Homo sapiens: one gene and its partner. The protein of the gene in region 1 interacts with the protein of each later gene in a biochemical or structural test. Each region holds a gene or a part of one and is shown on either strand. Other genes may lie near its edges.

Region 1 (7,023 bases):
TCCAGGATCAGATCTGCAATGCGACTGCTGCTCCATGGCCTTCTTGTAGACCTTGCACTTTCCGGCACCTCCTGGCCTCAGGTCCAAAGTCTCCAACAGCTCTGATACCACTACCTTCCTACCCCCTATCCCGGGCTGCAGTTTCCATCTGCCTCCCATTCCTCTCCTACCCTCTCCCTCCACTCCAGTAAAGGTAACCTTATAATTTTCCTGACCTCCTTTTCTGCGTTTCTCTCCTCATCATACTCTAAGAAGTTTTTCCTAATTTTAAGAAAAGGAAGGCATCTATGTAAGTTAGGGTATGGACCCGAATAATCTTGCTCTTACTATCCCCAAAAACAAAAAGAAAGTACAATCTGTCAACTCAGCTGCTCTATCACTTTAAGAGAGTAAGCATCCCGAAGGCAATGACCATCAACCTCAAATATACATCTATCTGTCCATCAGAGTGCATAAACAATGCTCATATTCATGCAATGGAATACTACTCAGCAAGAAAAAAGAAACAACTAAAGATACACACAATGGGGATGGACTTCAAAATCATGATGTCAAGTGAGAGGGAAAGAAGTCTTTGACAAAGAGCACATATGGGTATGATTCTCTTTATATGAAGTTCTAGTGCAGGCAAAACTAACCTATGGTGGGGGTAGGAGTGGGATCGCATGAGGGAACTTTTTGGGGTGATATTCATGTCCTGTATATTGATAGCGGTTTGGGTTGATAAGTATATGCACTTGTCAAGTTATCAAATGGTGCACATAAGATTTGTGCGTTCAGCCAGGCGCGTTGGCTCACGCCTGTAATACCAGCACTTTGGGAGGCCAAGGCAGGTGGATCATGAGGCCAAGAGATCGAGACCATCCTGAAACCCCGTCTCTAATAAAAATAAAAAAAATTAGCCGGGCGTGGCAGCACACACCTGTAGTCCCAGCTACTAGGGAGGCTGAGGCAGGAGAATCGCTTGAACCTGGGAGGCGGAGGTTGCAGTGAGCCAAGATGATTGCGCCACTGCACTCTAGCCTGGGAGACAGAGCAAGACCCCATCTCAAAAAAAAAAAGATTTGTGCATTCATTGTTTGTAAATATCCACTCAAAAGAAAAGAACTATAAACAAATATTGAACTCTAGTGAATGATATGTATGTTAAAGTATTTGGGGCGAAATATACTGATGTCTACGTTTTACTTTGAGATGTGTAAAATTTTAAGACAGCTTGATGAGGTTGGGCAAGGTGGCTCACATCTATAATCCCAACACTTTGGGAGGCCGAGACGGGCAGATCGCTTGAGCTCAGGAGTCGGAGACAAGCCTGGGCAACATGGCAAAGCCCTGTCTCTACTCAAAATACAAAAAATTATCTGGATGTGGTGGTGCATGCCTGTGGGAGCTACTTGGGAGGCTAAAGTGGGAAGATCACCTGAGCCTGGGAGGTCGAGGCTACATTGAGCCACGATCATGCCATTGCATTCCAGCCTGGGTAACAGAGTAAGACCCTGTCTCAAAAGAAAGAAAGAAAAAAAAAAAAAACCATAGCCTGATGGATGGATCAAGGGATACAGATGTGTAAAAGCAAGGATAGGAAAATGTTAATTGTAGAATCTAGGAAATGGAGGGTATTCGTTGCAAAATTCTTTAACTTTTCTGAATGTTTGCAGGTCATTGTGATAAAATTTTGGGAAAAAATATGTATCTATCAGCCACTTCCTAAAGGCAAGCAACATAAAGATAAGTAAGCCCAGTGTCAGAGCTCAGGCTTTGGATATCAAGTAACAAACCTGTGAACAAATCTGAGTAAACAGGGCCGGGCGCAATGGCTCACGCCTGTAATCCTAGCACTTTGGAAGGCCGAGGAGGGCAGATCACCTGAGATCAGGTGTTCGAAACCAGCCTGGTCAACACGGTGAAACCTTGTCTCTACTAAAAATAGCTGGGCATGGTGGCATGCGCCTGTAATCCCAGCTACTCAGGAGGCTGAGGCAGGAGAATCGCTGAAACCTGGGAGGCAGAGGTTGCAGTGAGCCGAGATCATGCCACTGCACTCCAGCCTGGGCGACAGAACAAGACTCTGTCTAAAAAAAAAAAAATTAAATAAAAATGAAAAAAAATATGAGTAAATAGCTATGAAATCTCAGGCAAATCACTTAAGGCCTCCATGCCTCCATTTCCCCATCTATAAAAATGGAGATAATAATGGTACCTACCACCTAAGGTGGGGGAATTAAATGAAATATATTTAATTACCCTCAGAGAGGTACCTAATAGTAGCAGGGCACAGTTTTTGCAGTCTAAATGACACAGTAGAGAGGATAACAGAGTACACAAGTATGACTAAAATAAGTCAAAACCTTTGTACATGGAAAGTAAAGCCCAAAGAAGTGAAGGTAACTTGATAAGCACAAGGCCAAGCTGGATCACACTGGCTTGAGTCCAGAGGGCCCACGTAGCTAGTGCCAAGGATACTATGGACAGGCAATTTGTAGGGGCAGAAATACAAATGGCCATCAAACATGAACAGGTATTCAGCCTCCATAACATTCACAGACATGTGAAATTGAGGTATACTATTTTCAATTAGCAGTTTAGTAAAAACTATCAAGGTTGATAATATCAATCAATTAGGGCATGGGATGCAGGGAGTCTCATAAGTCTTGGTGGAAACACAAATTGGTAGGTTGGTGCAAAAGTAATTATGGTTTTTGCCGTTACTTTTTTTTTTTTTGAGACGGAGTTTCGCTCTTGTTGCCCAGGCTGGAGTGCAATGGCCCGATTTCAGCTCACTGCAATCCGCCTCCCGGGTTCAAGCAATTCTCCTGCCTCAGCCTCCTGAGTAGCTGGAATTACAGGCATGCGCCACCATGACCGGCTAATTTTGTATTTTTAGTAGAGACGGGGTTTCTCCATGTTGGTCAGGCTGGTCTTGAACTCCTGACCTCAGGTGATCTGCCTGCCTCGGCCTTCCAAAGTGCTGGGATTACAGGCTTGAGCCACTGCGCCCGGCCCTTTTTTTTTTTTTTGAGACGCAGTCTTGCTCTTTCACCAGGCCAGAGTGCAGTGGCACGATCTCTGCTCACTGCAAGCTCCGCCTCCCGGGTTCACGCCATTCTCCTGCCTCAGCCTCCCGAGTAGCTGGTACTACAGGCGCCCGCCACCGCGCCTGGCTAATTTTTTGTATTTTTAGTAGAGACGGGGTTTCACCATGTTACCCAGGATGGTCTCGATCTCCTGACCTCGTGATCCGCCCGCCTCGGCTCCCAAAGTGCTGGGATTACAGGCGTGAGCCACCGCACCCGGCCTGCCGTTACTTTTTAATGGCAAAAACCTCAATTACTTTTGCACCAACTAATGTATTTTCAGAGGTCAAGTCAGTGGTATCTGTGAAAAAAAAAAATTTTTTTAAGAGACAAGGTCTTGCTTTGTCACCCAGGCTGGAGTTTGGTGGCTCAATCATAGATCACTACAGACTTGAACTCCTGGGCTCAAGTGATCCTCCTGTCTTAGCCTCCTGAGTAGCTGTGACTACAGGTGTGCGCCACCATTACTGGCTAACTTTTTAAAAATTGTTTTAGAGACAGGTTCTTGCTATTCTGTCCAGGCTGGTCTCAAACTCCTGGCCCCAAGCAATCCTCCTGCCTCAGCCTCCTGAGTAGCTAGGATTACAGGCACCACCACTGCACCTGGCATATGAAAATATTTATGTACATATTCTTTGGGCAATTCCATTATAAGACATCTATAGGTACATTCACATAATATACATGGCTAATCCTTGCAGCATTGTTTATAATAGCAAGTCTATAAATATAAAAGTCCTTACTAGAGAATAGTAAAACTGGCCAGGTGCAGCGGCTCAGGCCTCTAATTCCAGCACTTTGGGAGGCCAAGGCGGGAGGACTGCTTGAGTCCAGGAGTTTGAGACCAGCCTAGACAACACAGTGAGACTCTGACTCTACAAAAAAATTTTTTAAAAGTAGCTAGGCAGTGGTGCACACCTGTGATACCAGCTACTTGGGAGGCTGAGGTGGGAGGATCACTTGAGCCTAGAAGTCAAGGCTGCATGAGCCAAGATTCGTGCTACTGTGCTCCAGCCTGGGTGGAGGGAGATTATGTCTCAAAAAATAAAAAAAATAAAAAAAAATAAAATGCTGGGCATGGTGGCTCACAACTGTAATCCCAACATTTTGGGAGGCTGAGGCAGGCAGATCACTTGAGGTCAGAAGTTCGAGACTAGCCTGGCCAACATGGTGAAACCCCATCTCCACTAAAAATACAAAACTTTGCCGGCGTAGTGGCGCACCTGTAATCCCAGCTACTCAGGAGGCTGAGGCAGGAGAATCGCTTGAATCCAGGAAGCGGAGGTTGCAGTGAGCCGAGATCACGCCATTGCAGCACTCCAGCCTGCGCGAAAGGGCGAGACTCTGTCTCAAAAAAAAAAGCTAAATTATACAACTGAGCAGTTGTATAATTAAAAGTAAAAAGAATGAAGTAGATTTGTATACACTGACCTGGAAAGATTCTATACTATATTGTTAAGTGAAAAAATAGGTTGCAGGATAGTTTATAATTTTGCTAAAATTTAAAAACCTATATCTATATATGTGCATGAATATATTACATGTACGTTGTGTACAATATTTGCATATGTGTAGGAAAAATATATGCTCTGGGGAGGAGACTGGAATTTTAGAAGGGTCAAATAGACTTGTGTTTCATCCATATTTTAATTTTTTTTCTTTTTTTTTAAATAACAGAGATGGGGTCTCACCATGTTGGTCAGGCTGATCTTGAACTCCTGGCTTCAAGTGGTCCACCCACCTTGGCCTCCAAAGTACTGGATTATAGGCATGGGCCACCGCACTCGGGCTATATTTTAATTTTTTATAAGAACATTCATCTGGTAAATGTGTATTTGCTTACACCTAGGAGCTTCAGGGAGTGGAATTATCTATCATTTTTCTTCTACTTTTATTTCATCTTTTTTTTTTTTTTTTTTGAGACAGGGTCCCACTGTGTCCTCCAGGCTAGAGTGTGGTGCGATCTCGGCTCACTGCAGCCTCAACCTCCTGGGACTCAAGCGATCCTTCCCACCGCAGCCTCCTGAGTAGCTGGGACTACAGGCACTCGCCACCACACCCAGCTAACTTCTGTATTTTTTGTAGAGACAGGGTCTTGCCATGTTGCCCAGCCTGGTCTCAAATTCCTGGGCTCAAGCAATCTGCCTATCTCAGCCTCCCAAAGTCCTGGGATTACAGGTGTGAACCACTGTGTCCGGCCTACTACAGAAATTTTTTAAATATTTATATAAGATGATATTTTATAAAACATATATTAAACTATAAACATATATAGTGCCTAAAATATATATAACAAGCTTTTAAAAAGCAGTCTGGCCAGGCGCAGTGGCTCACACCTGTAATCCCAGCACTTTGGGAGGCCGAGGCAGGTGGATGACGAGGTCAGGAGTTCAAGACCAGCCTGGCCAAGATGGTGAAACCCTGTCTCTACTAAAAATACAAAAAAGTAGCCGGGCGTGGTGGCGGGCGCCTGTAATCCCAGCTGCTCGGGAGGCTGAGGCAGAGAATTGCTTGAACCCCGGAGGCGGAGGTTGCAGTGAGCCAAGATTGCGCCACTGCACTCCAGCCTGGGTGACAGAGCGAGACTCCTTCTCAAAAAAAACAGCAGTCTGGAAAAATTCGATCCAAAAATTTATCAGTGGTCATCTCTGGAGAGTAGGGGAGAAGAAGGGTAACACTTTAGTAACGCTTTAGCTTTCTACCTAATGATTCAACTTTTTTCCAGACTAAAAAAAAATGGACAAACTAGTAGGCAATCCACCAGCAGTAAAGCTGCAAACAGGGTAATGGTCAGTTTAAGGATTGCCTTCATGTCTTGAAAAAGTTTCAGTGGCTTGGGGGACTTGGTTAAAATAGAGTTCACTGGTGTCTTGTGGCTGTAAGTGGGGACACATTTAAATGGGTCACCTAGCAGCTGGCAAAAGAAAAAAAAAACCCAGGAAATGGAAACTATAACGTTAGAGTCCCAAGACAAGGGTGCCCAGAGTTGGCTGTGGTGGATAGATACTTAGGTCAGTCCTCCCACCCCCACCCCCAGACCACACTCATAAATAAATACAAAGGAAATACTTTCCCGAGAGAGCCGGCCTCTCTCCCTTGGCCTCTGACCTCCCTGAGCGGCCGTTTCCTCCAGCCCCGGGACCCCGGCTCTCTCCCCGCGCTCTGCCCCTCGCCAAGGGTTGTAGCAGCGGCCGGAGGGGTAGCCAGCACCTGGCCTGGCCCCGTGCTCCAGGGGGAGCCTCCTCCCGGCCGGCTGTGCTGAGCTCCGCAGCGCCGGGTGACTCCCTGCCAGGTCACACGGAGCTTATCTGGCTCCAGGTGTGCTCCCTCACGCCGACTGCACGCTTCTCACGTGACATTAGCCAGCCCTCACGCCGCCGCGCGGGGAGCCGGGCGGCCCTTGGCGTTTCCCCGCGGCTGGGCCGGCGCAGCCGCAGCCCCGCGGCGCCTCCCGCTGCGATCCCATCTCCCCCGGAAGGCAGCAATCCCGCGGGCCATGGAGGAACGCGAGCGGGAGAGCTCCTGCGGCCTCGCCAGGTTCCCTGCTGCTCTTCCAGGTGCACCGCCTGGCGCTCAGTTCCGCTAACATCCCCTTCCGTGTGACCTTGAGCAAGTCCCCTCCCCTCTCTAAGCCTCCACTATTTCAGCTACAGTTATCTTCAAGGGCCTGACAGCTCAGATTTGGCCCTCAGCCTCTGCTGGAGAGCTATTCTGCTCAACCACACACTGCAGGTTGTAATCCCGCTCTGCCTCTGACTTGCTGTGTGACCTTCAGCCCATCATCCAACCTCTCTGAATATTAGAGAATAATCACAATAATCTCTTGTAAGTGATGATAAACTACTTGGCAGACAGAAAGGGCCCTGGGTCCTGTAAAATCATCAGTCTAACAACCAAAACTGCTGCCTGACTCTAAACTGTTTAAAATGTCAAGGGAAATTGACATTTT
Region 2 (7,055 bases), on another chromosome or scaffold:
AAAAAAAATTTCATAATGTTTTAAGAAAATTTACCAATTTATGTTGGGCCGCATTTAAAGCCATCCTGGGCCACATTTGGCCCGCGGGTTGGAAAAGCTTGATTTAGAGTAACATGTACTTGAAAAAACAAATAGGTATTTCCTCACTATAATTTCTCAGTGTGACTCAGAACACCAAAAGCTTATTTTTTAGTTTTTTTTTTTTCAGGTTTTTGTTTTCCACCGAGTTTTATCCACACGGAAAACTCTCAAAAACTATAAACCAAAATGTTCACTCAGGAATATGTTTTAATTTTGCTTTTCTTTTTTTTTGTATTTTCTAAAATGTCTATAATAATGTTATTTTTGTCCAAAAAGAAAAATGTTTATGGCCGGGCGTGGTGGCTCAAACCTGTAATCTCAGCACTTTGGGAGGCCGAGGCAAGTGGATCACTTGAGGTCAGGAGTTCAAAAGCAGCCTGACAAACATGGTGAAACCCCGTCTCTACTAAAAATAAAAACATTAGCAGGGCGTGGTGGTGCATGCCTGTAATCCCAGCTACTTGGGAGGCTGAGGCAGGAGAATCGCTTGAACCCGGGAGGGGGAGGTTGCAGTGAGCCCAGATGGCGCCACTGCACTCCAGGCCTGGGCGACAGAGCGAGATTCCGTCTAAAAAAAGAAAAAAAAAAAGACAAATGTTTATAATCAAGATTTCCAATTTTGAAACCTAAAGTTGAATATTTTCTAAAAATTACATTACTAGGACGCTATACCCCTAGTTTACTTTTTCATCCAAAGAACAAGGAACTGCACATACAGCCTGCTTTATCATCACAACTCAATAATTAAACAGGTACAGCAGCCCTTTCACAGCCAGAGGAACATCAACTTTTTTCAAGGTTACTGTTATTAAAACCTGAGAAATGGGAAACCAAGATATGGCAAATGCCCCAGACGTATCTATCAAGCTAACCGTTAGTTCATTAGATTTCTAAATAAGAAAGGTCCATAAACGGTCCATATAAAACTCGCCTATATCTAGTAAGTTTCAGTGACCAAGAAAGATTACGTTGTTTTGTAAGACTTTTTTTTTTTTTTTGCCCACCTTCCTGAATTTGGAAAACTTTCTTAAAATCAGGCCTGGGCGCGGTGGCTCAAGCTTGTAATTTCAGCACTTTGGGAGGCCGAGGCAGGCGGATCACTAGGTCAAGAGATCGAGACCATCCTGGCCAACATGGTGAAACCCCGTCTCTACTAAAGGTATGAAAATTAGCTGGGCATGGCGGCGCACGTCTGTAGTCCCGGCTACTCGGGAGGCTGAGGCAGGAAAATCGCTTGAACCCGGGAGGCGGAGTTTGCAGTGAGTGGAGATCGCGCCACTGCACTCCAGCCTGGGCGACAAACTGAGGCTCCGTCTCAAAAACAAAACAAAACAAAAACACAAAATTAGCCGGGCATGGTGGCGCATGCCTGCCTCAGGAGGCTGAGGCAGGAGAATCGCTTGAACCCGGGAGGCGGAGATTTCGGTAAGCCGAGATCGCGGCATTGCACTCCAGCCTGGGCAACAAGAGCGAAACTCCGTCTCCACATAAATAAATAATCATTTTTGTAGGCAAATATAACAAATACAGCAAAACGTCATAGAATCTAGAAAGAGTATATATGCATATGTATCTATCACTTTTTCAACTTTTCTGTGTGTGAAAATTTTGGACACTGAAGTGAAAATAAACGCTTTCAAAGTCAGAATACAAAGAATTATCTATTGCAACTTCAACCCACCTGAAGCTTTGAGGCCTCTGATCAACTCACAAACCTACATTTCAAGCACTCGATGAAAAAGCCCTTTCTTAAGACGGCAAGACTTTGAGATTCATCAACTGATAAAATATAAAAGCGATACTAAAAATAATCTCTCACCTAATGTAAGTTCACCTAGAAAGTCATTTACCAGGAGGTTTCATGAGAAACTTAACTTAACTTTACTCAGTAAAAGAGCTTTTCCCTCTATTACCACTTCGCCTACGTTTTTCGTAATTCCCAACAGTAAGCTTTAACTGAAGAAGAAGAAAAAAAAAACATCCCCAGCAAGCAGATCCGGGCACCCCTCCCAGGTCCTAAAGCCTGCAAAAACCCAAAGAGTTCGTGGCGCTGGTGGCTCCAGCTGTTAGTTTCCCGGGCAGTCTCCGGGTTGGATTTGCACCCTGGGGTCTACACGGGTTAAAAACGCGGAAAAAAGGCGACGAAGAAATACAAACTGCCAGGGTGTCGAAATGAAAGGAGCGACTGTGAAAGGGGTAAGGAAAAATCCAAGCCATCTCTACGGGGAGGATCCAGAAAGCACCAGCCGCGCCAGGGGGTCAACCAACTCCGACACCGCTCGGCGTCAGCTGGGCGCCACCAGGCGCGGACTTCGGAGCGAGGGCAGGTGCGCGGGCCGGAAGCCTCGGGCGCTCACCTGGCACCTACCTGGAGCTCACCTGGCGCCCGGGCCCCGCGCCGCCGCCCCCCGCCCAGCCCGCCGCGCCCGCACCTCGCGGTCCTTGAGGCCCAGCAGGAGCACTTCCTCCATCAGGGTCAGCCGCGTTTCCTTGGAGTCGCCCTTGTCGTCGTCGTCCTGCTCGTCGCGGCGGCTCTGCGCGTCGTCCTCGCTGCTGCCGGCGCCGCCGCCCGCCGCCCGCTCCTTGTCGGCGGCGTTGCGGGAGGCCTCGGTGCGCCGCTGCACCAGGCCGGAGCTGCGCTGGGTCAGCGAGGTCATGGCTCCCGCCGAGGCGCCGAGCCGGGCCGAGAGGGTCGCAGGACCGACCGGGTCGCCCTCCTCCTCCCCGCGCGGCCTCCGATCCGGGTTTCCGTGTTAAATCCGGACGCCGGGGCGACGTCCGTCGGCAGCAGGGCCGGGGGCAGTCATGAGGAAACAGGTCAGGGCGAAGCGGGCTGGCCGGGCGTCGGCGGGGCAGGAGAGGAGCGCCTTCCTGCCTGTGGCCGCAGTCCCCGAAACACCCCGAGCTCCAAGGCGGAGGCGGCGGCGGCGCCTTTCCAATATGGCGGCCCCGGCTGACGTCACCGGAGGATGTGGCAGAGTCGGCGCGGGAGAGCTGGGCCGGGAGGCGCCGGAAGCGGCGGCCGGGGATCCGCTGCCACTGCAGCCTACACCCTTCCCGGCCCTCGGTGCTTGTCTTTTCTTTGGCGTTCCTGCGCCCCCTGACCCGCGGTCCTGCAGTCCTGCTCCCGTGACGTGCCCTCCCTCCTTCCGTTCCCCGTTTCCCCTTCACTACCCAGGGCTGGAGCCTGAACCTGGCGGGGCCCCCCGTGAATGGAAGAGCCTGGGCCACGCGAAGGTGGACCCCACTCAGCCTCCAGCCGTGCCCTCCACGCCCCAGACACCGCCGTCTTCGGAGGCGACTCCGCGGTCGTGTGGACGGGGTCCCATTTGGACTCCGGGGTCTGCAGGATCGGCAGGAAGGACTTTGCTCTCTGCTGCTGGGCGGGGAGGGGTACGCTATCTGCCGGGACTCCCTAACCCTTTAGAAGGAGCAAGTGCGTCCAAATGGTTTGAAAGTGGACCTTTATTGTTTTCCAGGAGTAAGAAGATAGAACAGTTGACCAGTTTTGTTTGTAAAACTTCTTTCCTTGCCTCGGACTTGTGCTATAAAGTGACCAGGGCGTAGTGAGTACAGTTAGTACCGCACACGTTAGCACGCTCGACCTTAACGATCTTTTTATAGAGACAATAAACCTGCAGCGTTTCATGCCACGTCTTTGTACGCATCGGATGTCTCTCCGTGTAGTTACTAGGTGAAATCCTCTTGGCGTGCGCAAATTAGGTTAAAAAAATAGCTGTCAAACCTGAGACAGGAGTTGGAGGAGTAGAGGGTGGCGCTTGTTAAGTGAAACATTTAACCAGGAATGGTATTGTGTGCCATCCTGTATTAAACAATGTATGGACAGAGTGGAACAACAGCAAAGCAAAAAATAAAAATTTTTTAAAAAAAGTGATCATGGGCTGTGGCTAAAGAGTGCTTTAGATGGATTCTTCTCTTCCACAAATCCATTATCCAGAACTGCTGCTGCCTACCATCCCATGCCCTGGAAAGTGACAGTGCTAAATGAAGGGAAGAGAGGGTCCAGGGGGCACACCAAGTAGACCTTCCCTTTTTCCCACCTGTCTTGGTGAAGGTCGATTTCACCTCAACCAATTTCTCCCATTCACACCCTCTTTTTTTTTTTTTTTTTTTTTTTTTTGAGACGGAGTCTTGCTCTGTTGCCCAGGCTGGGGTGCAGTGGCACAATCTCGGCTCACTGCAAGCTCTGCCTCCCGGGTTCACGCCATTCTCCTGCCTCAGCCTCCTGAGTAGCTGGACTACAGGCGCCCGCCACCACGCCTGGCTAATTTTTTGTATTTTTAGTGGAGACGGGGTTTCACCGTGTTAGCCAGGATGGTCTCGATCACCTGACCTCGTGATCCGCCGGCCTTGGCCTCCCAAAGTGCTGGGATTACAGGCGTGAGCCACCGCGCCAGCCCACACCCTCTTTGGACCTTTTTTCTTCATCTTTTCTGATTTTACCAAATGTTGTAGCTTGAAATATTTCTTTGTAAAATAAATGTAATTAATTTATTATGTGAAAAAAGTTAATCAGGAGTAGTGGCCCACATCTGTAGTCCCAGGTCTTCGGGAGGCTGAGGCAGGAGAACCGCTTGAGCCCAGAATTTGAGGCTGCCATGAGGGTGATCGTGCCACTGCACACCAGCCTGAGAGACAGAGCAAGACCCTGTCTCAAAAAAAAAAAAAAAAAATTGGCTGGGCGCGTTGGCTCACGCCTGTAATCCTAGCACTTTGGAAGGCCAAGGCGGACGGATCAGGAGGTCAGGAGATCGAGACCATCCTGGCTAACACGGTGAAACCCCGTCTCTACTAAAAATACAAAAAATTAGCCGGGCGTGGTGGCGGGCCCCTGTAGTCCCAGCTACTCGGGAGGCTGAGGCAGGAGAATGGCGTGAACCCCGGAGGCGGAGCTTGCAGTGAGCAGAGATTGCGCCACTGCACTCCAGCCTGGGTGACAGAGCGAGACTCCGTCTCAAAAAAAAAAAAAAATTACTTGACTAATATAGTCAAGTATGTAGTTCAAAGAGTACAAAGATATGTGTAGTGAAAATCTCCCTCCCAGCTCTGCCCCTGTTCACCCAGTTGTTCTCCTTTCTCTCCTGAAGGTTTTAATGCCAACAAATCCTCTGATACTCCTCCCCTCAAAATGTGAAGCCTAATTTCCCTCCCCCTGAGTGTGGGCCAGACTTAGTGACTCTCTTGAAATGAATAGAATGTGGCCAACATGACTGTGTGGCACTTCTCAGGTCATGAAAGTCTATGCAGCTTTTTTCCTCCCCAGCTGCCCTCCACCCCCAGCCATCATGATGGGTGGGGGTGGAGGGCAGCTGGGGAAGAAGTGAGGGAGGAAGGAAGGAGATATTTTAAAAACAGGAAGAGGAAGAAAGGATATTTTAGGAAGGAAAAAAGAAGGAATTTTAGGAATGAGAATATTCCTAATTACAACAATGAGTGTTACTTTTTAAAAAATTTTTATTTATTTATTTATTTATTTTTGAGACAGAGTCTCATTCTGTCGCCCAGGCTGGAGTGCAGTGGCGTGATCTCGGCTCACTGCAACCTCCACCTCCAGGTTCAAGCAATTCCCCTGCCTCAGCCTGCCGAGTAGCTGGGATTACAGGCACATGCCACCACGCCCAGCTAATTTATTTATTTATTTATTTATTTATTTTTTTGAGACGGAGTTTTGTTGCCCAGGCTGGAGTGCAATGGCGCAATCTCGGCTCACCGCAACCTCTGCCTCCCAGGTTCAAGCGATTCTCCTGCCTCAGCCTCCCGAGTAACTGGGATTACAGGCATGTGTCACCACGCCTGGCTAATTTTGTATTTTTAGTAGAGACGGGGTTTCTCCATGTTGGTCAGGCTGGTCTCGAACTCCTGACCTCAGGTGATCTGCCCGCCTCGGCCTCCCAAAGTGCTGGGATTACAGGCGTGAGCCACCGCGCCTGGCACGCCCAGCTAATTTTTTTGTATTTTTAGTAGAGACGGGGTTTCACCATGTTGGCCAGACTGGTCTTGAACTCCTGACCTCAGGCAATCCAGCAGCCTCGGCCTCCCAAAGTGCCGGGATTACAGGCATGAGCCACCGCGCCTGGCCTTGATTGTTTGTTTATTGCCTGCTGAGATGTGCCAGGCGCGGTCTCCAGCAACCCCCACCAGGACCCTGCAGGTTAGGTGCTGCTGCTGTGCTGACCAGCTCCACATGGACTGCAACCATCTCATGCAGTGCGGTCTGGCAGCACCTCCATGCCTACCTACAAGTGTGGGAGAGTAAGCACTTCAAGCAGGTGGATAACAGGACCCCTTTCTTTCCTCACATGAACTGTCCTGAGATCGTTTATACAACTTCTCAGTAGCATTTAGCTCCAGCAAGCTCAACGACCCCTTCACTCCTCGCTTCCCTCCACTAGCTTCTGCTCCCAGCTGTTGCACTCCCTAATAAAGCACAAAAGACTTTGTCTTAGGCCCTGCTTCCTAGGGAACACAGATTAAGATGCCCATTTTACCTATGAAGAAACAGTTCAGAGAAGTTAAGTAATCTGCCCAACTTAACACTTCTGGAAAATCACAGACCTGGATTAGAACCCTGGTCCTTAATTCAGTATCAAACAAGTATATTTCTACATGTTTGCTGCATGCCAGGCATTGTCATAAGCAATAAAGATACAATACTAAGCCAAAAGAGACATAGCCATACTTTTCATGAAACTGACAGTTTAATGAAGGGCACAGATATTAAGCAAATCCTGATGCTAATTAATGTAGAAATGTAGAAATGCTTTGAAAGAAGGAATACAGTCCTATGAGATCATGTACTGTCATATATGTGAGAAACCTAAGTTTTTATCTGGGACTCAAAGCTGCTCTGAAGAAGTCATAAGCCAAAGAATGAACTGAAGTTAACCAAGTTGGAGGTAGAGGACATTCCTGAGAGGAAATATGCAAAGGCCCTGTAGCAAAAGACAGATCAT

The links. The genes of interacting proteins can lie anywhere in the genome.
Region 2: the proteins of MYO18A (region 1) and GOLPH3 form a complex in vitro, tested with the Homo sapiens proteins (2 studies listed by IntAct).

Annotation. Positions count from the first base shown.
Region 1 is NC_000017.11:29,170,390-29,177,412, forward strand, and holds part of MYO18A (unconventional myosin-XVIIIa), read right to left. Parts: intron 6,385-7,023; exon of another isoform or gene 6,183-6,384; intron 1-6,182.
Region 2 is NC_000005.10:32,171,297-32,178,351, forward strand, and holds the start of GOLPH3 (Golgi phosphoprotein 3), read right to left. Parts: upstream 3,024-7,055; 5' UTR 2,739-3,023; coding exon 2,514-2,738; intron 1-2,513. UniProt on the Homo sapiens protein: Phosphatidylinositol-4-phosphate-binding protein that links Golgi membranes to the cytoskeleton and may participate in the tensile force required for vesicle budding from the Golgi.